Homo sapiens: one gene and its partners. The protein of the gene in region 1 interacts with the protein of each later gene in a pairwise test. Each region holds a gene or a part of one and is shown in the gene's direction. Other genes may lie near its edges.

Region 1 (4,127 bases):
TTCCAATACAGCATAAAAATTTACCTAATAAATACTTCCTTAAAAAATCTGATACAAAATTAAACCACAAATTATCTTTACTGGTTAAAGCCTAAGGATAACTAATGCATTCAAGAGACAAATATGTGGTTGTTTTTTTTTTTATGTTTTTGTGGAGATACGGGTCTCACTATGTTGCCTAGGCTATTCTTGAACTTCTATGCTCAAGCAATCCTCCTGCCTCGGCCTCCCAAAGTGCTGGGATTACAGACATGAGCCACTGAGACCAGCCTTGTTTCAAACTTCACAGTACCCAAAGAATCACCTGGAGATAATGTTAAAATGCAAACGCCTTAGGACAACCCCAAGATTCTGACTCAGCAAGTTTGCGAAGGTGGACTAAGAATTTACATTTCCACAGGCTCCAGCTGATGCTGTCTGTGATGTTCCCATATGGCACACTCTGAGGAACAATGCACTAGGCTGTATAACTTACCTCAACTTTATATATAAGTTTTTGATATTCGTTTCTTAGTACATTGAGTTATCCAACCAGCAGTGAGTAGGGTAATTTTTACACAAATTTTCCTAGGAATGTAATGAAAACATTTTTTCCTTCACTCTAGTGTAATCATGTCAACACATGGCTGCTATGGAAAAATATGTAGCCTTAAAAACTCCAGGAAATTAAATTGAATTTCCAAATACATATATTCAGTCATATGTGAGATATGTATCAGTGAGCACTTAGAGTCATTTCACCATAAATATAATAATTTTTTATCATATAGTACCCAAAAGATTACTGAATTTGGCAAATGTTTACGTTCACTTTGTAACTTAAAATATTCTAAAGTCAATAGAAGATGGTAAAAGTATGAGATAAATAATGATTTGAAGAAAAACTCTTGAAGTATATGAAGACTGTAATTTTATTATGCCAGTTACCACGAGTTATCAGAGAACATGTAAAATCTTGATAACATGGTAAGTATTATTTGTGTCATAGAGTTGTTCCACCTTGGACACATACTTGTGGAAACATCTTTATCACTGCAATTATTTCTATGCCTGGTTTCCTCCAGCATGCTTTTCTGTCATCTGACTCACTCAGCGCTAGACTAACAGTGGGATTAACATGCAGTGGGTACAGTTGTTTCCTGGTTACTTTGTCTTCACAATCATCTATTGCAAAATCACTTTGTTACGGTTATTTTTATCATTTGTAGAGACAGATTTTGGGCATTACTTTTAGTTTCCATAATGTGATCTCATAATTGCCATTATTTAACAAAAACAAATGGGGGACTTCAGAGTGTTTAAATACATTGGCCCTCTAGGGTAGCACATCATCTCTTGAAGCTTCACTTCAACTTCACTACTTCTGTAGTCTCATCTTGAGTAAAAGGTAATATGTTCATGTATAATCGAATATGTTGTCTTAATCTAGAGTGTTGCTTCCTAAAATCTTTTGAAAACTAATTATAAAAATGTGTATTTATGTAATGATAATTTCTCATAAAGAAACAATTGAGAGAAATGATGACCTTCTTAGGATCTGAAGGTAAGTTGAGAATCTGAATAACTATACATTGAAATCAGCAATCATCATGCAAAGTAAATAATGTGGAATATGGAGACATATTCCAACTTCTCTCCTGATGGAACTTCTGAAAAGCTTTTTATTTCCTTGTCTACGTACTGGCATCTACTCTGCTACTTACTACTTTTACCTTTATTCGAAGTTCATATTTTAAGAAAATAGCATACGTTCTCTTTTTTGCAAATGTATATATTGTTTCACAAGTTTAACTTTTAAAAATTTACTTTTTTCCCATAAGTAAACATTTCTCACTACCTTTTCATTGACCTTTCCATCATTTTAAACAGTTATGTCATTCTGCATAATAAAAAATGTTGTATAACAGTCATGCTTTACTGCCTTACTGTTTTATATTACTTAAGTTGTTTTCATTCAGTTGTGATATGGCAGAAAACAAAGATTTTACTATTTCATATTTTTATTATTTTTCATTGGGGAAATATTTTTTTAAAACCATGACATATATATTTATATATCTATGTCTATATATCCATCTTTCAGTTTATCAAGGTTAGTAAAACAAAACTACTCTTCTATGAGCATTTTTTGATTCCATACTTTCAATAAAATTTACAGGTATAAAATACACTAAAGTTTTTATGCTTTTTGCATCATAAAATGACTGATGGGTAGGTTTATCTATCAGGTGATAGAAAAACCCCAAAGTACATATTATTTTTACACTTACTCTAATACCAGAAATTTCCTTTTTTTTTTTTTTTTTTTTTTAATTTGAGACAGAGTTTCGCTCTTGTTGCCCAGGCTGGAGTGCAATGGTGCAATCTCGGCTCACCGCAACCTCCACCTCCCGGGCTCAAGTGATTCTCCTGCCTCAGCTTCCTAAGTAGCTGGGATTATAGGCACTCACCACCATGCCCAGCTAAATTTTTATTATTATTATTTTTAGTAGAGACGGGGTTTCTCCATGTTGGTCAGGCTGGTCTTGAACTCCTGACCACAGGTGATCTGCCCACCTTGGCCTTCCAAAGTGCTGTGATTACAGGCATGAGCCACCACACCCGGCCAGAAATTTCAGTTTGAATAACTGAGGCAAATCAGTGAATAAGTAACAAAGCAAATGCCATAAATCATGAGTTCTGCTTTATGTTTTGGAGATTTGGGGTTATTAATAACAGTAATTTTTTTTATAATTAGGTAAAAAATATTCTTGTAATGTTTTATCACAAGTTATTGGTAAAAGAGATTAAAATAATGAAGACCATTACCTTTATATGAATTACTCTATAGTTTTCAATAAACAGGTAAAAATGTCATTTATTTGTAACTCTTGTGGCAATTATGTGTTTCACTGAAAATGTCTTTATTTAGATGTTTATAATTTACAAATAAATAATCTAACGTTTTTTGTTTAATAACAAAGGAACTGGGTTAACTGGCTTATACTGTTTATGATAACATATCACAGTCCCAGATAAGGTTAATTTTGTTGAATGAGATTATTTAAAATATTAAGTCATCTTCACCAATTCAACTTCTCAGAGGAGGTACGAATATTTTCTCTGTGACTTCTTATCAGTTTGATTGTTCTCTACCCAGTATCATTAATGTTCTAATCTGAAGGTGACCCCATTTTTGCAACTCTCAAGACAGAAATCTGGCTCATTTTCAGTAACATTATAAAGCGATTGCCCATTGCTGGTCATTCTAACATCCAAACATCTCTTTACACTGTACCTTAAATATCATCCCTAATGTCATTATTTAAGGCGCCCCATAATATCCAGTTCTATCTTCCCTACATTTTGAACTGTTCCAGTTTTATCTTCTGATAAACTGCTCCAGTTTTATCTTCCCTACATTTTGAACTGTTTGCACTTTCAATATGGTATCCTCCCTCTTTTTCATTTTCTTGCAGTCACCCAACACCTCTTTACTCATCCTGCATAATCCAACTCAAGCTTTACTTTCTTCTTTACCTTCATACCCCTATTCTCTTGGTCTGTGTAAGGTGTTGATTTGTGTGTTACTCTAATGCCTTAGCATTTCCATATCAATACACTCACTTTTACTTATCAGTGTCTCCAACAAGTCTCCAAGTTTCATGATGTCAGGCAATGGGTTTTAATTGTCTTTCTATCTGGAGTGTGTCTCCCAGTGCTTTGGAGCGTAGTATAATCAATAAACTTTTGATGGGCGAATGCAAGAAAAAATGTGATACTGAATTTCCACATATGTTTTCAGAGAACCCAGCCAACTATGAAGTTCCTTGTCTTTGCCTTCATCTTGGCTCTCATGGTTTCCATGATTGTAAGTATATCAGGACATTTGAAGAATATGTTCTCAGTACCTATCCCAAGAGTCTCTCTATTCCTTGTGTTCTGGCATATATTGGTGTTTACTTGAATACAGCTTTATATGTTTAAATGTTTCCATATGAACTTTTTTTTGTACTAACCTACATAAGCTATATAAGGATTTAGAATAAATAGTCATTATTCATCTACAGACACTAAAGTATATTTAGCTTAGTGTGAAATAAAAGAAAGTTTTACTGAACTTCTTAAATATGTGGAACTGAGAGCTT
Region 2 (3,962 bases), about 17 Mb from region 1:
TCTGTCACCCCTGAGAAGTGCTCAGAAAATGTTAGCTGTCTCCCTCCTCCCTTCCTCCTCAGCCTGACCACACCTCTGCATCATTCAAGCTGGGAACACCTTGCCTTCCAGAGACCTTTCCCGTTCCTCAGTGTCCATTCTCTGCAGGGCTCTGCGTAAATACGCCCTGTGCTGACTGACCCCTTATACGCAACCTCCAGGGAGGCTGGATGGCCAGAGCTGCCTTCAGGGTTTGTTTGCCAAAGGCAGTTTATTCTTTCTTCAAATAGTTAGAATTTACTTCACATTTGAATCTAACTTGTATTTTTATACAGTCAGCATGTCCTGAGCATTCTGTCATGGAGAAGAATTTGCTCATCCATGAATAAACAATGCATAGCTAGTATCCCTCTTGAGACAGGTAGAGGCGTTTATGAAGTGTGCCTTGTTACTAGCCTGTGCCCCACAAATAAACTTTCTGCTGTGAGAAGGGGTGTGGCACCTGCTTTTTCAGAGGTTTAGTTTCACAGAACCATACAGTCCTTGGGTTTTGCCAGCAGTGCCTGCTTAGAATGCACAGAGGGGCCCTGGGCACTGTGGTCAGAGGCTGTCCTCAGACCCCATCTCCATTTCAGACCAAGCTCTTTACCACATCCCCTTGCAGGATTCCCAGATGTCCCTAGGAGGCCAGGGGTATGTATCTCAAAGTAGACTCTTATCTCCAAAAGCAAGTGAGAGCTCCCTTGAATTATTTTGGGTGAAGGAATTAGTTTTCACATGTTTCATGAGACATAATTAGGTGCCTAATACCATATTATTCTCACAGGTGTTTAATTATTGACTTTAGACACAAATTCTAATAGAACTAGAAGAAAAACTGAGACAAATTCTGAAGCTCCTTGAAATTATTCTTAGTCCCTCCTGACATTTCCTCCACCGGCGTTTTTTTTCTTTTTGCTCTATTTCCAGCAGACACGCTTTGCTAATGCTACAAGGTGTGGCTTTGGCTTTGTTGTTTTTTCCGGAGTTAGCTTTTCTGTCTGTGCATCCTGGCTCTTTGAAATCCCAACTGAATTTGGAGAAATTATTTCTTGGCATCCACCCTACTTTCCAGGGACACAATGTGATGCTGACGACATAGCCCGGTCACTCCACTTGACAACAAGTTTGTTTGTCTCATCTCACATACATATTCAGTGGTGAGTAAGAACAGAAGTGGAAAGCCTTACTTACCACAGTTTATTATATGTTTCATGCCTGTGATAATTACTTTTATAATGCCACTTGTGAAAAAATTGATCAGATTAGGATGAATCACCTTGCTGGCCAACAGTTATTGGAATGATTCTCCATGTGTGACTTCGTTGCACTATTACAAAATGTGGCAGGATAGACCTGCCCAGCCATTGTTGCCGATGTTCATTTGTAATGCTGCCTTAAGGAGATGAGGAGATGAGAGCCAATTGTTCCAGCAGCTCAGCCTGCCCTGCCAACAGTTCAGAGGAGGAGCTGCCAGTGGGACTGGAGGTGCATGGAAACCTGGAGCTCGTTTTCACAGTGGTGTCCACTGTGATGATGGGGCTGCTCATGTTCTCTTTGGGATGTTCCGTGGAGATCCGGAAGCTGTGGTCGCACATCAGGAGACCCTGGGGCATTGCTGTGGGACTGCTCTGCCAGTTTGGGCTCATGCCTTTTACAGCTTATCTCCTGGCCATTAGCTTTTCTCTGAAGCCAGTCCAAGCTATTGCTGTTCTCATCATGGGCTGCTGCCCGGGGGGCACCATCTCTAACATTTTCACCTTCTGGGTTGATGGAGATATGGATCTCAGGTAAGTAACCCCAGGGAAGCTCAGCAGTCTGTCTCTTATCCTGCCTAGGGGGAATAACTGAAACTCTTGTGTTAAACACTCTTCTAATCTTTTGGTAGAGATTCTAGTGGGAAATGTTACAAATATCACAGAGACTTGTTCAGCCATGGGTGGGCTTTCCTTTCAGTGCTCAAAAGTTACTTTGCTGATGATCATTTTCTTTATTGGCTACTGTTCTGAGCAGTGGGATGCGTTCTGAGCAGTGGAGGCAGGTCTGCACCTCACCCAGTGGCCCTTCCTAAGCTTGAGCTCATTCTTACCTACACTGGCCTCTTTAGCAACTCCTAGGACTTAAACCAAGAATCCCAAGAAGCTAACGATTGTGGTTTGGTAGCAGCCGTCGTGGTTGTGTCAGTGGCATAGTCAGAATGAGACTCCCGTAGCTCCAGTCAGTGATGCCTGAGCACCTACTTTAGGAAAGAAGCACTTTAGAGGACTGGATAAAGGAGCTTTAGGGGTGTCTGGTGGCCATATCCAGCTTTAAGTGCTGAGATGGCTTGTCGATTTGACTTCAGGAGCAATGCGAAGGCTCTCAGGACTAAAATTGTTCTTTCTTGTTGCTTTGCAGATCGTTAACATCATCACTAGATTCGCATTCCTTCCCTTTAAGCCAGTGACCTTATTCCCAATTATGGTGTAGATAAATACCTCTGGGAGACATTAAGCCTTGTCCCTTATTTACACTTTAATGAGGATGAATTAGTCACATGCTTTTCTGGATTACATGTTTTGATGGGGGAAAAAAAGAGCATTTGAGGAAAGAGTAGAGGGATAGCACTGGAAAAAGAGCTAAAAACAATGGTCTCTCGAGACTCTTTGCTTACTTGTGAACATGCCGTTTCACTTCCTGCCCTGGGGAAGAACTGCTTATAAATTTAAGTATTTGTTTCATGTGTATGTCATTTAGTTGAGATTCACTTTACCATGAATGAATGAATCAGAGGTAATGACTGAGCTGGGAGTTGACATCAGTGAGAGTCAGCTGCAGGTATGTGTTTCCAGTTTTCCGCTTGTGCTGAATGTTTAGCGTATGGAACATATTTCACCTATAAATTTTAATGGGCTCATACCATGCAGAATAGGAACTAACTTTCCCAAGGCAGTGTTTTTGTTTACCCACTTATGAGAGATTTGAAAAAAAAATAACTTGATGAATTTTGTGTTTTACCTTAATGGTAAAAGCCACTCATATACAAAGCCACTAATATACACTGCTTTTGTGTTTTACCTTAATGGTAAAAGCCATTAATATACATTGCTAATTCAAATTCAGTAAAGTTGATTATTTAACTGGGAAATGATAGATATTCTTTGCATGAAGTTCATAAATCAGAGATAAATTCCAGGACCTAAAAGTTTTTGGAAAGAAAAAGGAAACTAATATTTATTAAGTGCCCCATAGGCATGGGATAGATGCTTTCATGCTTATTTTCTTCTTGGGGCTCATAATAACCTTGTAAATGGCCTTTTATTGTTCTGAATTTTACAGCTGAGAAAATTGTGATTCAGATTGGTTAAGTAGCTTGCCAAATGCTACAAACCAGTATGGCAGAACTCAGATTTGAATTCTCATCTGTTTTACATCAGTCTGCAGTTTAGGCACATTTCCCCCATGGCATTTAGCAACACAACTAGATCTTCTGTTTTGAATAGCAGCATAAATCTTCAGTGTTCTCAAACACTTGTGTTCTGGGAAAGAGAACATTTATTACCTTAATCTCTTATTAGTCAATGTTGTCATAAAAACACCAATGAACAGGAAACCTATGAAAGATAAAGCTACTTTTACTTTCTTTTGCCAACTCTTATCTTTAATTCACCTTTAACTTTGTTCAAATTATTTAACCTATCTAAGCCTTATCTCATCATTGGCAAAATGGGGTTAAATTTACCTATTTCTCACAAGACTGTATATATATGTATATATATGTACACACACTCAAACACACACACACATATATAGATAATAGTTTGGGGTGGAGTTTCACTCTTGTCGCCCAGGCTGGAGTGCAATGGTGCGATCTCGGCTCGCTGCAACCTCCACCTCCTGGGTTCAAGTGATTCTCCTGCCTCAGCCTCCTGAGTAGCTGGGAATACAGGTACCCGTACCCACCA
Region 3 (3,500 bases), on another chromosome or scaffold:
TGGTGCAATCTTGGCTCACTGCAACCTCCATCTCCTGGGTTCAAGCGATTCTCCTGCCTCAGCCTCCTGAGTAGCTGGGATTACAGGTGCACGCCACCACGCCCGGCTAATTTTTTGTATTTTTAGTAGAGACGGGTTTTCACCATGTTGGCCAGGATGGTCTCGATCTCCTGAACTCGTGATCCAGCTGCCTCGGCCTCCCAAAGTGCTGGGATTACAGGCATGAGCTACCGTGCCTGGCCAATTTTTTTATTTTTTAAAGGCTTTCTGCTTTTTCTCTTTTGGATCTCATGCCCTGGGAAATTTTTTCAGTTCACTGAAACCCCCTTTAAAAAAAAATTATGTTTAGTCCTTGTGTTCACTTCCTTTCTTGTTGGCATGATCTTTGCTGAGAAAAATGTAAAATTTCTTTTTTCTTTGTCTTTTTTTTTTTTTTTTTTTTTTTTGAGACAGGGTCTCACTCTGTTGCCCAGGCTGGAGTGCAATGGTGAGATGTCACCTTACTGCAACCTTGACCTCCCGGGCTCAAGTATTCCACCTCAGCCTTCTGAGTAGCTGGGATTATAGGTGCACACCACCACGCCCGGCTAATTTTTGTATTTTTTGTAGAGATGGGGTTTCGCCATGTTGCACAGGCTGATCTTGAACTCCTGGGCTCAAGTGGTACATTTTCCCTCAGCCTCCCAAAGTGCTGGGACTATAGGCATGAACTACTGCACCCTGCCTTGAAAATGTAAAATTTCATTAGCCTTTTGGGGAAGCTTAAAATCTCTCCAAATTGGCTTCTCCAAAACTGGTTGTTCCATGTATTTCTACTTCTTCCTTTTGCCACCTTTGATAACCCTTAAAGGGGTCTAGATGGGACTTCTGACAACCCTGAGATCCCTTGAGGAAGACAAAAAAAAGGTGCCACTGGTTGGGCGCGGTGGCTCACGCCTATAATCCCAGCACTTTGGGAAGCTGAAGCAGGTGGATTACCTGAGGTCAGAAGTTTAAAATCAGCCTGGCCAACGTGGTGAAACCCCATCTCTACTAAAAATACAAAAAAAAAAAAAAAAAAAGGTGCCACTGACCCTCTCTTTTGGGGCCTCTCGTTTTCCTTATAGAGCCCCAAAAGTCACTAATGGGTTCATGTCAGGTTTAAAACTCTTCTCTCTTTTGAATTAAACTCTCTAGTCTTTGGCTTTTGTATCGATACATGTGTCTATATATGTATGTATATGTCTATACATGTGTTTATTGTGTATATGGTACCAATAACGAATGAGTACCCCCAAAAGTCAGGAGTCAACAAATGGAAATTCAAAACAAAACTTTTTCTTTTTTTTGAAACAGAGTCTTGCTCTATCGCCCAGGCTGGAGTGCTTTAGCATGATCTCTACTCACTGCAACCTCTGCCTCCAGATTAAGCGATTCTCATACCTCAACCTCCTGAGTAGCTGGGATCACAGGCGTGTGCCATCACACACGGCTAATTTTTGTATTTTAGTGGAGACAGTTTCACCACGTTAGTTAGGCTGATCTCGAACTTCTGGCCTCAAGCCATCCGCCCGCTTTGGCCTCCCACAGTGCTGGGATTACAGGCGTGAGCCATCGTGCCTGGCCTCAAACTAATTTTTATAAGTGTTTCTTTTTTTTCCTCTGAGTTAAAAGACTTGCATCTGCAATGGACTGTTACCTTACAAGGAATCGAACCCACGCTGCAGCAGCTAACCAGTTTATTGCCAGCCACTAGACCACAGATCATAGTGCCTTTTTGCAGGCCCTTCAGGGGATCCAAAACAAGCAGTTTGAGTGTACAAAGAATTTTAACTTGTGTTTTGAATCTGATTTCTGTCTTTTAAAAATCTTGCCAAGGGAGTTTCTAAGGCTGTGTTCTTTCTGTATCTTTTTATGGGTACTAGAAAGATAGCTGTTTTTTTTTTTTTTCCTCAGGCCAGGTACGGTGGCTGTAATCCTAGCACTTTGGGAGGCCAAGGCGTGTGGATTGCCTGAACTCAGGAGTTCGAGACCAGCCTGGGCAATACAGTGAAACCCCGTCTCTACTAACATACAAAATATTAGCCGGGTGTGGTGGTGTGTGCCTGCAATCCCAGCTACCTGGGAGGTTGAGGCAGGAGAATTGCTTGAACTGGGAGGCAGAGGTTGCAGTGAGCTGAGATAGTGCCACCGCACCCCAGCCTAGGTGACAGAGTGAGACTCCATCTCCAATCAATCAATCAATCAATGTTTTATTTAAATAAATAAATAAAGTTTTTTTTTTTTTTTTTTTTGAGATGGAGTTTTGCTCTTGTTGCCTAGGCTGGAGTGCAATGGCTCAGTCTCGGCTCACCACAACCTCAGCCTCCTGAGTAGCTGGGATTACAGGCATGTGCCACCATGCCCAGCTAATTTTGTATTTTTAGTAGACATGGGGTTTTTCCATGTTGGTCAGGCTGTTCTCAAGCTCCCAATCTCAGGTGATCCACCAGCCTCGGCCTCCCAAAGTGCTGGGATTACAGGTATAAGCCACTGTGCCTGGTCTAAAATGTTTTTTAAATAAAGCCAATTTACTTAGCGACTTAAGCCAATAAGCCTTCTTCATGGAAAGTCTCAGAGGTAATTTTCTAGGTTCAGAATACCAGATGATATAACCCTCACATTCCCCCAAAATATTTACTTTCAAAAATAGGCTAAGATAGCGAAAGACTCTTGTTTTCATAGACAGTTAAGGATGGTGTTTATGTGTGTGTTTCCTGTAGTATCCCACCAATACGTGGGGGGCTGCTAATCATAGACCTATTAATTTGAGACACCAGCTAGGCCCTCCCTGGATTGGACTTGCCCAGGACTAACCAGGCAATAAGAGTTGAGATTTCTTCCTTCTCACTGAAGTAATTTTATTTATTTATTTTTTAAATTAATTTTAAAAATTGAGGGGGGAGACAGGGTCTTGTTCTCTTACCCACGCTACAGTGCAGTGGCATGGTCGCAGTTCACTACAGCCTCAACCTGCTGCACTTAAGCCATCCTCCCACCTGAGCCTGTCAAGCAGATGGGAGTACAGGCACGTGCCAACATACATGCCCAGCTAATTTTTAAAAATCATTTGTGGAGAGGAGGTCTCACTGTGTTGCCCAGGCTGGTCTCGAACTCCTGAGCTCAAGCGATCCTCCCACCACAGCCTCCCAAAGTGCTAGGATTACAGGTGTGAGCCACCGCACCCAGCTTCAGTGAAGGAATTTTTTTAAAAGGAGAAGAAAAAGATAAAAGAGTTGAGACAATAAAATCAGGTGTGAGTCACTGCACCCGGCCCTCTTTCTCTTTTGAAAAGGCCTTGAAAGATGGCTCTCTCCTTCACCTTTTGTTGTGTCCTGTAACTTTTACTAATTATCTAAAGTAAGGGAGAAAAATTGTTTTTGAAAACAGGCAAATAAAGTATCTTTTGAACATGGCTTTTATTCTGCATGCCTGTTATATCTGTATCTTTATATGTGTCATATAGAAGTGATACTTTACTG
Region 4 (4,114 bases), on another chromosome or scaffold:
GGTGATCCACCTGCCTCGGCCTCCCAAAGTGCTGGGATAACAAGCGTGAGCCACCACGCCTAGCTCCCTCAGTCTTTCTTAGTCTTTCATGACTCTGACATTTTTCAATATACAGTCCCTTTAAAGAAATAGTGTTTCTCAATTTGGGCTTGTCTGATGTTTTTTCATTTTAAAAATTAAAAAAAAAATTTTTTTTTTTGAGTTGGGGTCTTGCTTTGTCACCCAGCCTGGAGTGCAGTGGCACGAACATGGCTCACTGCAGCCTCGACTTCCCAGGCTAAGGCGATCCTTCCTACCTCAGCCTCCCAAGTAGCTGGGACTGTGGACGCACACCACTACACCCGGCTATTTTTTTTTAAAATTTTTTATTTTTTTGGTATTTTTGTAGCAATGGGGTTTCACCATGTTGCCCAGGCTGGTCACAAACTTCTGGGCTTGGATGATCCTCCTGTCTTGGCCTCCCAGTGTTAGGATTACAGGTGCGAGCCACCGCGTCTGGCTGATGTCTTCTCATGATGAGATTCCGGTTGTGCCTTCCTGGCTGGAATGCCACATAGATGATGCTGTGACCTGCGAAGACCTTCACATCTGGAGGCACACGACACCCTCCTGCCTCTCACAGGTGATTTATTTTAACCCCTTGGTCAAGATGTCTGATTCCTCTACTGTATAGTTACTCTTTTTCCTTTTGTTACTAATAAGCAATCTATCAAGAGATGCTTCGTGACCGTGCTGACACCCTCCCCCCTCACTGAAGTCTTCCCCCCAGATTTAGCCCCCACTGATGAGTTTTGCACACAGGCTGTCTTCTTGTAGGCAGCCCCCTCTGCTACCTTTGTTTTTCCGGGAAGGACCTTAGATCCTGGGTAGGTGCTCATCCTGCCTGGCAGTCGAGTGCAATGCTGCTGTCCTGGCCAATGCCCAGCCTTCCTCATTTGCCCCGGCTTCAAGGCATTGGTTCACAGTCCCGTACGGGCAGCTAGACCATCTCACAGCAAGCAGCACTCTGGGAGGCTCATCTCATTTCCTGCCCTGGAAGCTTCCCTTCCTCACTGCAGCCACTGAAGCTGCAGGCTAGATCAAGGGGACCACAGAGTTGTCCAGTCCCCAGGGTGGGGGTGCCAGGAGCCCTTGTCCTCCGTAGCAGGTCTCAGAGGCTGACGATGGGGAAATCGCACTGGTGAAGCTGCCGTGGGGTCAGGAGGAACCTGCGATAAGACGCCCAACAGTTAGGGCAGGTGCTTTGAGGTTTGGAGCCTGGGACCCCACAGGAAGTGACTTCGTGCTGAGCTAATGTTGCTTCATCCTGGCGCCAGTCTCAGGCCAAGAGCTGCAGGCTGGCATGGCTGGGGGGATGTCAGCGGAGTGCCCTGAGCCTGGGCCAGGAGGTCTGCAGGGCCAGTCCCCAGGGCCAGGCAGGCAGTGTCCCCCTCCCATCACGCCCACCTCCTGGAGCCTGCCCCCGTGGAGGGCCTACGTGGCTGCCGCCGTCCTCTGCTACATCAACCTCCTGAATTACATGAACTGGTTCATCATTGCAGGTGAGGAGGGGATGGCTACCCTGGGCAGTACCTGCTGCTGTGCCCACCAGCCAGGGGCTGCAGATCCATGGTGGCCTTCCAGCCATCACCCATCTTTCTGCTCCTGGGCCCATCTCTGGTGTTCTCACCTCTAGAGGTGGTTTTCAGCTGTGCTCGAATCGGGGAGGACCAACTGATGTTCCCAATCCAGCCTCAACTAAGAAGGGACACAGGCTGGGCATGGTGGCTCCCGCTTGTAATTCCAGCACTTTGGGAGGCTGAGGCAGGAAGATTGCTTGAGCCCAGGAGTTTGAGACCAACCTGGACAACATAGTGAGACTCTGTCTCTATTTATTTATTTTTTTTTTTGAGACAGAGTCTCGCTCTGTCGCCCAGGCTGGAGTGTAGTGGCGCAATCTCAGCTCACTGCAACCTCTGTCTCCCAGGTTCAAGTGATTCTCCTGCCTCAGCCTCCCGAGTAGCTGGGATTACAGGCGTGCACCACCACATCCGGCTAATTTTTGTATTTTGAGTAGAGGAGGAGTAGGGACGGGGTTTTACCATGCTAGTCAGGCTGGTCTCGAACTCCTGACCTCAGGTGATCCACCCGCCTCGGCCTCCCAAAGTGCTGGGATTACAGGCATGAGCCACCGTGCCCGGCCTTTTTTTTTTTTCTTGAGACAGAGTCTCAATCTGTTGCCCAGGCTGGAGTGCAGTGGCGCGATCTCGGCTCACTGCAACTTCTGCCTCCCAGGTTCAAGCGATTCCTATCTCAGCCTCCCGAGTAGCTGGGACTACAGGCGCATACCACCATGCCAGGCTAGTTTTTGTATTTTTAGTAGAGACGGGGTTTTGCCGTGTATGCCAGGCTGTCTCGAACTCCAGACCTCAGGTGATCCGCCTGCCTCGGCCTCCCAAAGTGTTGGGATTATAGGCATGAGCCCCTGCGCCCAGCCGAAACTCTGTCTCTATTTAAAAAATTAAAAATATTTTAGGGCTGGGTGCGGTGGCTCAGGCCTGTAATCCCAGCACTGTGGGAGGCCAAGGTGGGCGGATCACTTGAAGTGAGGACTTTGTGACCAGCCTGGGCAACATGGTGAAACCCCGTCTCTACTAAAACTACAAAAATTAGCCGAGCATGGTAGCGGGCACCTGTAATCTCAGCTACTGGGGAGGCTGAGGCAGAGAATTGCTTGAACCTGGGAGGTGGATGTTGCAGTGAGCCGAGATCCCACCATTGAGCCAAGATCCCACCATTGCACTCCAGTCTGGGCGACAGAGCAAGGCTCTGTCTCAAAAAAAAAAAAATAAAAAATAAAAAATAAATAAATAAATAAATATTTTTTAAAAATTAAGGGAGGGCACAGTGGGGGTGGGGCCAGAGACATAATGAGGGGTGGGTGGGTGAGGACAGCAGGCAGGACTTCCAGGCAGAGGCCCCCAGGTTCTAGGTGGAGGACAGGGTAGCCTGGGCCAGACAAGAATAGCTCCTGCTGGCTGTGTTTCTAGGACAACAGGCTGCTCGCAAACCTCACACGTCCTGCCTTCCTTCTTGCAGGCTTCAGGGCTCAACCTGCTCTGTCTTCTGTCACTCATTCACTAACTCACTCACTCATTCATTCATTCAAGACTGATCAGGGGCCAGGCGTGGTGGCTCACGCCTGTAATCCCAGCTACTCGGGAGGCTGAGGCAGGACAGTCGCTTGAACCCGGGAGGCGGAGGTTGCGGTGAGCTGAGATCGTGCCACTGCACTCCAGCCTGGGCGACAGAGCGAGACTCCGTCTCAAACAAAGACAACAACAATAACAACAGCTGATTGAGGCTCCACTTGCTCTTCTCTTCTTGTCATTCATTCATTCAAGACCGGCTGAGCACTAACTGTGGGCAGGACCCCCTGCTGGCTGCTGTGGACCCAGGGAGGAAATCGGACTTGGAGTTCCTGAACTCAGGAATGACCATCTCATGGGGCAGAGATAGAGGCTGGTTGATGGCAGTCCTGCGAGGCGGAGAGGTGCGGCCAGACAAGGGGGAGGCACAGGCCGGGCTGGGAGCTCAGGAGGGTGCCTGCAGCTGCCAGGCATCTCTGAGACCTGGGCATCGATCTGTCAGTTACCAGCTCAGCATGCCAGAGAGTGGCTATGGAATCATGAAACTCTAGGGGCTGCAGAGCCATCCCCAGACCTGGTCATCGTCTTTGAGGAGCTCAGAGGTCAGGAGCTTCTCCTCACATGAGGTCAGGAGTTCGAGACCAGCCTGGGTAACATAGAAAAACCTTGTCTCTACAAAAAATTTAAAAAATTAGCCAGGGACAGTGATGTCTTCAGCCTCTCGGGAGGCTGAAGCAGGAGGATTGCTTGAGGCTGAAGCAGGAGGATTGCTTGAGGCTGAAGCGGGAGGATTGCTTGAGGCTGCGGTGAGCCCTCTAGCCTGAGTGACAGAGCAAGATCTTATCTAAACCCCTAAAGACAAAAAGCCAAAACAAAGCAAAACAAAACACATGAAACAAAAAACCCCAAAGGGGTGTATGGGGTGAGAACAGAGCTTCTTGGGTGCCAGACTGGGAGCTTGGACTTTCTGCCTTGGGCAATGGGGA
Region 5 (3,500 bases), on another chromosome or scaffold:
CCCAAAGTGCTGGGGTTACAGGCGTGAGCCACTGCACCCGGCCCTACTTCCAGTGTTTTTCTATTCTTTCCCTTTCCTTTGTTTCCTTCTTGGAAAGTGTTTTTAAAGCTTTTTTAAAAAACCTACGTCATTTTTCTGAAATAGTCTTTATTTTGTAAATAAAATTTATTTTCAAGTATAAAAATAACACTTATAAAAAAACTTGAGAAATACTGGCAATTAGGAAAAATAGGGGAATGAATTGCTTTTGTCTTCAACATTTTTATAAATTTTTTTCATCTTTTCCTATATCTAGTTATTTTGTTTGCTTGTTTGAAAAAAATCAAATTTTGAAATTTTTTATATTTTAATATGTTGATAATTTATTAAACAAGGCACTTTAGCTCTTATTCATAACTACTAAGGGAAAAAGATAGCCAGTACTGAGTTAGTATTAAAGCTTAATTGCAGTGAACTGTTTTGTCTACTGTATATATCAAGAATATTAGAATTTATATCTATCTATTTAGTAACATGATTTTACATGTGATAACTTCTACATCATTGTCGCTAATACAGACTTTGGAAAGAAACAACACTGATTTTAGACATAAAGTTTATAGAGCAGGCTTGTGAGCAGGAACTTAAGAGTCCCCTAGCAGAATACCTAGTGACATTTGGGACTGGATGCTGCTGCTAGTTTTCTGATAAGTGAAAAAAAAATCTTCTGTGATCTTTTCAGATTTTTCTTCTTTTTTGGTTTGGGGGCTTCCTCCATTCACAAAAGATCTGACTTTTTATTAAACAGTATGTCAGTGATTTAAAATCACTTTGCTCCCACCTTAGAGCCTTTACAGCATCTACAGCTGGAGCCACCAGCTGGGTAATAACCATAAATCAATGCATGTCATACACTGTGGATGGAGCATCTGGCCACAGATACTCACCATTACTGACGGGCATCTGAAATGCCAGCTAGAAATGTGAAGGGTGTAGTTTGTAGGCATTCGTGACACATCCGAAGGTGTAGAGGTTAAATGCCAGCAGCCCTGCCATAGCTCCTTGGCTGTTTCCTTCGGCCCGTGCATTCATTCGACATGTGCATGCTGAGCCAGGCTCTGAGCTGTAGTGCCGGGGAACACAGCAGTGAACAAAATGGACAAAGTCCATGTTCTCATGAAGCTTTCATTCCAGTGAGGAAAGATTATGAACATATATGCAAATAAATATAGAATGTGTCCAGCAGTGATGAATGCAGTAAAGTTTTTAAAAGGCAAGGTAATGGGTTTGAGAGTGTTGGGGTGTGCTCTTTTATGGAAGGGTCAGGGAAGGGCTCGCTGAGTAGGTAGCGTTTGAGCAGAGACGAGGTAAATGAACCATGAGGCTATCTGAGGGAAGAGTGTTGCAGGGAGAGAGAACTTCTGGGTGCCAGGACCCAGAGGAGGGGTGTGTTCACTGTTCACAAGGAACAGCAAGGAGGCTGGAACAGAGTGAGCCAGAAGAAGTACGGTCGGCACAGGCCAGTGGGCATGGTAGAGAGCTTAGCTTTTACTTGGAGTGAGATACTAGCCAGGGGAGGGTGTGGGCAGAGGAGGAACGTGATCTGACTTACGCATTTTTAAGGATTGCTCTGTGTGCCCTAGCAGTAATAAACTCCAGGCTGTGAGGGCAGAGGCAGGAAGAGCAGTCGGGAAGCTGTTACTGTGATGCGGTTTTACTGTGATGCAGTTGAGCGGCGCGGCGGTTTGGGAGTGGGATGATAGCAGTAGAGAAGGTGAGAAGTGGTTATACTGGTTGAACGGTAGGTTTTGCGGATGGGTTGCTGAGAGAAAATAAAGAGTCAAGGATAACGTTGGTATTTTTGGCCTGAGCAACCAGAAGAATGTGTTGCAATTACATGAGACAGGGAAGACTGAGGGAGGAGCAAGTTTTGCATGGAAGGCAAAGCATTGAACTTTGAACACGTTAATCCTCAATGACTATTACATATCTAAGTGGAGAGGTTGGGTAGGCGGTTAACCCTACAGGTGTGGAACTCAAGAGAAGAGACTGGCACCAGAGCTATAAATTAGAGTGTTGGGTGTTACCAAACTAGGTAAGGAGGGTGTTGAGAATATGCATGTCCATCACTTTCTGTTGAATTTACCATATTTTTTTGCATATCACTCTTGAACATGACAGGTGAGAGATAAGTGGGTTGTACAGCCCAGTGGGCTCAAAGCCAGGGACCAGAGGGAACTTCCAGTTTTAAACACCCCAGGAGATTCTGGGACCATTCTTTGAGAAGCACCCTGAAGACACCTTCTGTTTTCCTCTTTCATCTTTGACAAGTCACACCTCTCCAAGTTTGTGATTCTCTAATGATTCCTAGCATGCCCTAGATGAGATGAATGGGTCCTCTCAGCACTCTTTCAGCCTGTACTTCTAAGATTTACCAAATACATGAATGGAAGGACAGAAAAGCAATTAAAAAATCAATGTGCCATTTGTAAGTGCTTCAAATTCAGTCTCATAACCATGAAGTAAAACCACTGTCACCATACATGCCTCTGTTAACATTTGGTAGTAATTAACACCTGCCTTACCTTGAGAATGATCTTTATAGTTTATGAGGTTAGCACTTTGATTTATGTCACAGTGTTTTCTGACAGGCTCAGTTATTCTTGCAGTGGGCTGGCTTCCTTCCTGGAGAGGTCCCTTTCCCATAGTGTGTTCCTATCTGCTATATACCATCAGATGTATTGAAAAATTGTTAACAGTTAATTATATTAGAAGTTTATCAATTGGTGTTTATGAATCACCAAGCATTTTATGTACTGCATCCTCATAAATAAAGCCCTAAGATGACACTCGCTTTTGGAGTTGGCACTACAAGATGCATGAGAAATACAGTTGATCCTAGAACAACACAGGTTTGAACTGCATGGGGTCCACATATATGTGGATTTTCCTCCACCTTTGCCACCCCTGAGAGAAGACCAACCCCTCCTCTTGCTCCTCCTCCTCAGCCTACTTGATGTGAAGACAATGAGGATGAAGACCTTTATGGTGATCCACTTCCACTTAATAGTAAATATATTTTCTCTTCTTTATGATTTTCTTAATGACATTTCTTTTCTCTAGCTTGCTGTATTGTAAGAATACAGTATATAATACATATGGCATACAAAATATGTGTTAATCAACTGCTTATGTTATTCATAAGGCTTTCAGTCAACAGTAAGCTATTAGTAAGTTTTTGAGGAGTCAAAGTTATACACAGATTTTCAACTGCACAGGGGGTCTGTTTCCCTAACTCCCAAGTTGTTCAGGGGTCAACTAAGTAGTCAAATGAGATCATGTGTACAGAAAAAAAAAAAAAGTGAAACCAAAATGCTATGTAAATCTGGTTTATTCTAATAGCCACTTGTCTTGGGGACAGTATCACCATGAGTTAGTCTGGCCAGAGTCACCTGCTAGTCCGCTTTATCAGTGTAGACTTCCTGTGTGTGGATCTGAAAGTCTAGAGAACAGCATTTCCC
Region 6 (3,500 bases), on another chromosome or scaffold:
CAGGCATGGGCCACCACGCCCAGCAGGGGATCTGCTTTTAAAGGGCTCACTCATAGGGCTGTTGGCAGGATGCCTCAGTGCCTCACCACATGGGCCTCTCAGTAGGGTTGCTTGTGTGTCCTTGTATCACGGCAACTGGCTTCCCCCACTTGGATCTTGCAAGTGAGCTGAGAGAACAAAGTAGAAACCATAACCTTTGGCCAGGCATGGTGGCTCACGCCTGTAGTCCCAGCACTTTTGGAGGCTGAGGCAGTTGGATCACCTGAAGTCAGGAGTTCAAGACCAGCCTGGCCAACATGGTAAAACCCCATCTCTACTAAAAAATACAAAAAAAAAAAAATTAGCCGGGTGTGGTGGTGGGCACCTGTAATCCTAGCTACTCAGGAGGCTGAGGCAGGAGAATCACTTGAACCAGAGAGGCAGAGGTTGCAGTGAGCCGAGATCACGCCACTGCACTCCAGCTTAGGCAACAAGAGTGAAACTCTGTCTCAACAACAACAACAAAAAAACGTGTAACCTTTTTTATGACCCAGCCTCAGAAGTTGTACACCATCATTTCTGCAATATACTAGTGCTTACACAGGTCAGCCTTACTCATTGTGGGAGAGGACTACATAAGGGTGTGAATACTAGGAAGTGGGGATCATTGAGGACATCTTGGAAACTAGCTTCCACAGAGTAAGGTCAGGATTTGCAGGAAAGAGGAATCTCAGGTTTGGGGTATGTTAAATTTGGGGTTCCTATTTTATACTCTGGTGATATTAAGAGGCAATTAGATGTACCAGTCTAGAATTTAGAGGAGTTATCAGCAGGTACAGGGTAGTTTAAACAACTGGACTAAGAAAACCTGGGGAGTCAATGTAGGTAGAGGATAGGTCTACGGCCTGTACCCTGGGTATCTCCAATATTTAAAAGTCAGGACAGGAAGGAAGATTGGGACGGATTAGCCATTGACGTAGAAGAACCAAGAGGTGTCCCAAAAGCCAAGTGGAGAGAGTTTCAAGAAGAGAGAGTGAGCAGTTGTATCAGAAGCTACTGATAGTCCAGTAAAATGAGGAGTGAGAATTGACCATTGAAATTAGCAACAAAGAGATTCCTGGAGACTTTGAAAGGAACAATTTTGATACTGTTGAGGATGAAAATCGGATCAAAGAGCAAAAAAGGAAGTGGAGACATTACCTATAGGTGACTTGGGAGTTTCACTGTAAGGGAGAGCTGAGAAATGGAGTGGGATCTGAAGGAGAAAGTGGTGAGATGGTGGGTTTGGTGGTGAGAGCAAGTGAAGTTCTGTTGCTTCTCTTTTCTTAGTGGAAATTGAAAGCAAGGACATTAGCTAAGTGAAGAAATAGGAGGGGGTTTTGGGAGCCTAAGGAGAGAGGAGAAGGTCTAAGTCACCTTAGAGAGTGGGAGAGTGAACTGATTAGAGAAATGAAGTGGAATTGCCAGGCAGTCCTAAAGGAGCTTCAGGAAAGAAGTAGGTACAGAGAGTTGAATGGAACCAGGGTGTGGGTTTTGCTGGATTTGTAAATGAAAGACGAGAGGAACAGGGAGTTGTGGTTATGTGCAAGAGAATAATTACAGTGGACCATGGGATTTCAGGAGGGAAGTGAGGACGTGATAGTGTCAGCAGTGTCAAAGAATTGGTGGATTTCGGGTACTAAATAGTGAACTTGGAAAATAAGGGTAAGTAGTTGAAGACTCAGACACTTGAAGTTGAATTTTGGAAGATTTGCAGTTATTGGCAGTGACAGGATCTAGGTATGAGTATGAAAATGGGTAGCTGAGGTGAGATGGCAAAATCAAAAGATTATCATGAGTCGGGAGGTCAGTATTCATTATTGAAATCACCAGTTATGATGGGGTGATTAGAGTGAGGCAAGGAGCCGGTGCAGAGGGAGAGGTGTGAGGAGAAGCACCATGGCAAGAGGTTAGTGGCATACACGTTGGAATTAGCTGAAATCTGTTTCCTCGGTTGCATTGGGCAAAGTCACTTCTCATCAGTGAGCCTCAACATCTTCTCAGTAAAACAGGGATAATTACCGCCACCCTCAAAGAGTCATTGTGGGGATGAAATGAGATGATGGTTGTGAAGTACAGTGATCTGTACACAGCTAATGTTCAGTATTTACTGTTGACTGTTTTCTTACTGTTTCTTTTATTAAAAGAATTGATATGTGTGTAGAAGTGCTTAATGCCTGACCCGTAGCATGTACTATATGAATATTAGTTATTATAACTTTTATTATCCCTAAGCAAAGGGCTTGTGCAGACTGGAGCCACCGATTTCACTGTGTCTGGCCCCAGCTGATGCCTCTGCTTCTCCCCTCCCCTTAGAGCTTGGGAAAGTCGAGGTGACGGTGTTTGACCCTGACTCCCTGGACCCTGATCGCTGTGAGAGCTGCTATGGTGCTGAGGCAGAAGATATCAAGTGAGCTGGCGGGGAGCGGGAGCAGGGTTCCCATCAGGCGCCATCTGTCAGTCAGCCTCAGCCTCAGTCAGACTGTGGCAGGTGGGGAGGTCAGACCAAGAATCTAGAGTGGGCGGGGTATGTGCCTCTGTCATTGATCCTGGTGCAAGCGACTGAGGCTTTGTAACCAGGCCCTATCTGGGAGCTGCAGACCTAGAGATGAAGCTGAAGTGGTCTCTGCTCTTCCACCTAGAGAAATGGTTCAGAGGTGGTCTCTGGAGTCCAGTTACCTGGGTTCTACCCGTTTCCTTGGGCCAAGCCATGTAACCTCTCTATGTGAAGAGGGATGATAATAACATCTTCTCGTAAGAGTCACATATGGATTAGCTGTATACTGTGTGTAAAGCACTGAGGTGGAAGGCCCAGCCCAGATTATTAGACCCTCAGTATCTGATAACTGCTGCTGTTTCCCAGACCCTGACTTCTGCAAGACTGATTCAGCAGGTCTGGAGTGGGGCCTGGGAATGTGTACTTAAATTTTTTTTTATTGTGGGAAAATATGTGACATAAAATTTACCATTTTAACTATTTTTAAGTGTGCAACTCAGTGGCATTAGGTATCTTCACAGTGTCATGCAGTCACCACTCTCTGTCCTAAAACTTGTCATCGCCTCAAACAGAATGGGAATATGTATTTTTCACAGTCCTAGTCTGGGCACAATGGCTTACACCTGTAATCCGTAGCACTTTGGGAGGCCGAGGTAGGTGAATCACTTGAGCTCAGGAGTTTGAGACCAGCCTGGGCAACATAGCAAGACCCTATCTCTAAAAAAATTTTAAAAATTAAAAAAAGAAAACAGTCCTTCTGCCACTGAGGAAACACATTTGGAGAATGTTTGGTGGTCAGGGATGAGGCTAGCAGAGCCTTCATTAGCAGGCAGAGCTGCTCGGGCTCTATTTCCCCAGATGCCAGCACTGGACTTATGCCTCTTTAACACTCTCACCGTCACTCCCTGCCCTACAGGTGCTGTAACACCTGTGAAGATGTGCGGGAGGCATATCGCCGTAGAGGCTGGGCCTTCAAGAACCCAGA
Region 7 (2,907 bases), on another chromosome or scaffold:
GGAAAGCATCCTGGTGGCTGTCAGGCCTTGCTCACGGCCCCTTTCTCTTTCAGGGAGAGGATCCTCCACAGTGGTATCCTGCTGCGTGCCCCTCCAGGACAGCACCCAGAGGCCCGAATTGCTGCTGCACAGAGAGCACTCGGCCTCACCCCACGTTTTCCCTAAGTTCTGTCTAGTAATTCCACTTTGGAGAGGGGGGTGTTCCTTGACAGATTTAGAGAGTTGATGTAACTTCCTCGGATCAGTTCTGCTGGCTCCATCCCCTACCTGCTCAGCCCTGCACAAAGTGGCTAAGCACGCCACACTGCCGGCTCCCAAGGCGATGGCCACCTGCCTCTGTCTCGGCCGCTAGTGGCAGGAAGATGGAAATCCCTCACTTTGTCCCTAGATTCATTTTATTTTATTTTTGTTTGTTTATGTTTTTTTAAGGACAGAGCCTTCCTCTCACCCAGGCTGGAGTGTGGCAATCACAGCTCACTGCAGCCTCAGCCTCCTGAAGCTCTGGCATCAGGCGGGAGCCACTGTGCCTGGCCCCATAGACTCATGTTAGCATAAACAAATAGGAAATGTACACAGCTCAGGAAATGGCTACTAGATACTTAAGTCCCCCAAACAGAAATATATTTCCTCTGAAGAAACTGAAAAAAGTGGCCGGGCGCAGTGGCTCATGCCTGTAATCCCAACACTCTGGGAGGCTGAGGTGGACAGATCACTTGACACCAGGAGTTTCAGACCAGCCTGGCCAACATGGTGAAACCCTGTCCCTACTAAAAATACAAAAAATTAGCTGGGCATGGTTTTGCACGCCTGTAATCCCAGCTACTCAGGAGGCTGAGGCAGAAGAATCACTTGAACCCAGGAGGCGGAGGTTGCAGTGAGCCAAGATTGTGCCACTGCACAGTGTCCAGTCTGGGCAACAGAGCAAGACTCTATCTCAAAAAAAAAAAGAAAATGACAAAGTTATTTTTTCTCTCTTAACTCATAACTGGGGCCAAAGGCAGGGTGACATCACTGGGGATGCCAGTGTGTGGAGGCTGTCCCCTGACCAGTCCTGTCCACAGTCAGGAGGGCAGGGGCTGCAGTGCACAGACCGCATTGTTGTGGCATGGAGGGGGGTCCCACAAAGGCCTTGTCAGCTCATGGGACCACATTGGCAGCCAGCATAGTGACAGAAGCCTCAGATAGGCAGTGAGCCATTGCCAAGACTCCATGGTCCCTTGGTGTCTGTGGCCACCAAACAGATGACAGAACCAGCCCCTCTTGTTCAGCCACCTGGGAGGCTGCTCCCAAGCCTGTTGAGCTTGAGGATCCTTAACCACTCACCAGCTCTCTTCAGTTCCCCTTCAAATGCTGTTTTATCTCAGCGGAACGTACTACGCCCTGTATTTCCTCGCCACGCTCCTGATGATCACGTATAAAAGTAAGTCAGGGACGGGCACAGTGGCTCACGCCTGTAATCCCAACATTTTGGGAGGCTGAGGTGGGCGGATCACTTGAGGTCAGGAGTTTGAGACCAGCCAGGCCAACATGGGGAAACCCCATCTCTACTAAAAACACAAAAAGTAGCCGGGCGTGGTGGTGGGCGCCTGTAGTCCCAGCTACTCGGGAGACTGAGGTGGGAGGATTGCTTGAACCCGGGAGGTGGAGGTTCCAGTGAGCCAAGATTGCGCCACTGAACTCCATCCTGGGTGACAGAGCAAGACCCTGTCTCAAAAAAAAAAAAAAGGAAAAGGCAAGCTGAGGTGGCTGCTGCTGCTGTGCCAGGTTACTTATGTTCCGTCCGCGCCTCTGCTCTTCAGGTCAGGTGTTCAGCTATCCTCACCGCTACCTGGTCCTCGATCTTGCTCTGCTGTTTCTGATGGGGATTCTAGAAGCAGTTCGGTTATACCTGGGTGAGTGGACTGTTAACACCGTGAAGAACCTGTCCTAAGAGTTGCTATCTGTTTCCACAGCCTTTCAAGAGTAATTATTTTATAGTGTGGTTCTCAGAGACATTTTTTATCCAAACTGCTTACCCAGTTGCTTTGCAGGCTCACCTTACAGTGTCATTAAGTATTAATCAAGAAGTTTTGTCCCAGAGACAAATAACACTGGGGGCATCGTTGGGAGAGACTCTGTGTTTGGAAGCATGTCTTGTAGAAGCCACTGGGTAATGGCACTGAGATCAGAAAAGCCCAGCCCACCACCACATCTGGAGCTCCGGAATATTCACCAGCACCCCTTTCCTTCCCCTTGCCCTTAGCTGTCTGAGGAGAGAGCCCTGGAGAGTTCTGCCAGGTCCCAAAAGGCAGCAGAGTCTGGAGGGGTGGGAGCCCCCAGCCTCCCCACTCCAGCTCTAGGGATCCCCAAGTCTGCAACCCCTTCCAGTGACCTACTTTTTTTGAGACGAGGTCTCACTCTGTTGCCCAGGCTGGAGTGCAGTGGTGCAGTCACAGCTCACTGCAGCCTTGACCTCCTGGGCTTGAGCGATCCTCCTGCCTCAGCCCTCCCCTCCTCCCAAGTAGCTGGGATTACAGGCACCTGCCACCACGCCCAGCTAATTTTGTTTTGTTTTGTTTTGTTTTTTTTTGGTAGAGACGAGACAAGGTTTCTTTTTTTTTTTTTTTTTTTTTTGAGACAGAGTCTCGCTCTGTCGCCCAGGCTGGAGTGCAGTGGCGTGAACTTGGCTCACTGCAAGCTCCGCCTCCCGGGTTCACGCCAGTCTCCTGTCTCAGCCTCCCGAGTAACTGGGACTACAGGTGCCCGCCACCACGCCCGGCTCATTTTTGTATTTTTAGTAGAGATGGGGTTTCACCATGTTAGCCAGGATGGTTTCCATCTCCTGACCTCCTGATCCGCCCACCTCGGCCTCCCAAAGTGCTGGGATTACAGGCGTGAGCCACCGCGCCCGGCCGGAGACAGGGTTTC

Evidence for each region.
Region 2: the proteins of STATH (region 1) and SLC10A6 interact in binary tests that used the Homo sapiens proteins (3 or more experiments, as listed by UniProt).
Region 3: the proteins of STATH (region 1) and TMX2 interact in binary tests that used the Homo sapiens proteins (3 or more experiments, as listed by UniProt).
Region 4: the proteins of STATH (region 1) and SPNS3 interact in binary tests that used the Homo sapiens proteins (3 or more experiments, as listed by UniProt).
Region 5: the proteins of STATH (region 1) and MTIF3 interact in binary tests that used the Homo sapiens proteins (3 or more experiments, as listed by UniProt).
Region 6: the proteins of STATH (region 1) and ERGIC3 interact in binary tests that used the Homo sapiens proteins (3 or more experiments, as listed by UniProt).
Region 7: the proteins of STATH (region 1) and TMEM80 interact in binary tests that used the Homo sapiens proteins (3 or more experiments, as listed by UniProt).

The regions. Positions count from the first base shown.
Region 1 is NC_000004.12:69,994,639-69,998,765, forward strand, and holds the start of STATH (statherin isoform a precursor), read left to right. Parts: upstream 1-1,327; 5' UTR 1,328-1,387; intron 1,388-3,784; 5' UTR 3,785-3,799; coding exon 3,800-3,850; intron 3,851-4,127. UniProt on the Homo sapiens protein: Salivary protein that stabilizes saliva supersaturated with calcium salts by inhibiting the precipitation of calcium phosphate salts. It also modulates hydroxyapatite crystal formation on the tooth surface.
Region 2 is NC_000004.12:86,846,585-86,850,546, reverse strand, and holds the start of SLC10A6 (sodium-dependent organic anion transporter), read left to right. Parts: upstream 1-1,162; 5' UTR 1,163-1,431; coding exon 1,432-1,808; intron 1,809-3,962. UniProt on the Homo sapiens protein: Transports sulfoconjugated steroid hormones from the extracellular compartment into the cytosol in a sodium-dependent manner without hydrolysis.
Region 3 is NC_000011.10:57,719,093-57,722,592, forward strand, and holds part of TMX2 (thioredoxin-related transmembrane protein 2 isoform 1 precursor), read left to right. Parts: intron 1-3,500.
Region 4 is NC_000017.11:4,432,626-4,436,739, forward strand, and holds the start of SPNS3 (protein spinster homolog 3), read left to right. Parts: upstream 1-1,314; 5' UTR 1,315-1,342; coding exon 1,343-1,541; intron 1,542-4,114. UniProt on the Homo sapiens protein: Sphingolipid transporter.
Region 5 is NC_000013.11:27,440,565-27,444,064, reverse strand, and holds part of MTIF3 (translation initiation factor IF-3, mitochondrial), read left to right. Parts: intron 1-2,822; exon of another isoform or gene 2,823-3,048; intron 3,049-3,500. UniProt on the Homo sapiens protein: IF-3 binds to the 28S ribosomal subunit and shifts the equilibrium between 55S ribosomes and their 39S and 28S subunits in favor of the free subunits, thus enhancing the availability of 28S subunits on which protein synthesis initiation begins.
Region 6 is NC_000020.11:35,545,078-35,548,577, forward strand, and holds part of ERGIC3 (endoplasmic reticulum-Golgi intermediate compartment protein 3), read left to right. Parts: intron 1-2,334; coding exon 2,335-2,428; intron 2,429-3,431; coding exon 3,432-3,500. UniProt on the Homo sapiens protein: Possible role in transport between endoplasmic reticulum and Golgi. Positively regulates trafficking of the secretory proteins SERPINA1/alpha1-antitrypsin and HP/haptoglobin.
Region 7 is NC_000011.10:698,816-701,722, forward strand, and holds part of TMEM80 (transmembrane protein 80), read left to right. Parts: intron 1-53; coding exon 54-73; intron 74-1,326; coding exon 1,327-1,420; intron 1,421-1,799; coding exon 1,800-1,892; intron 1,893-2,907.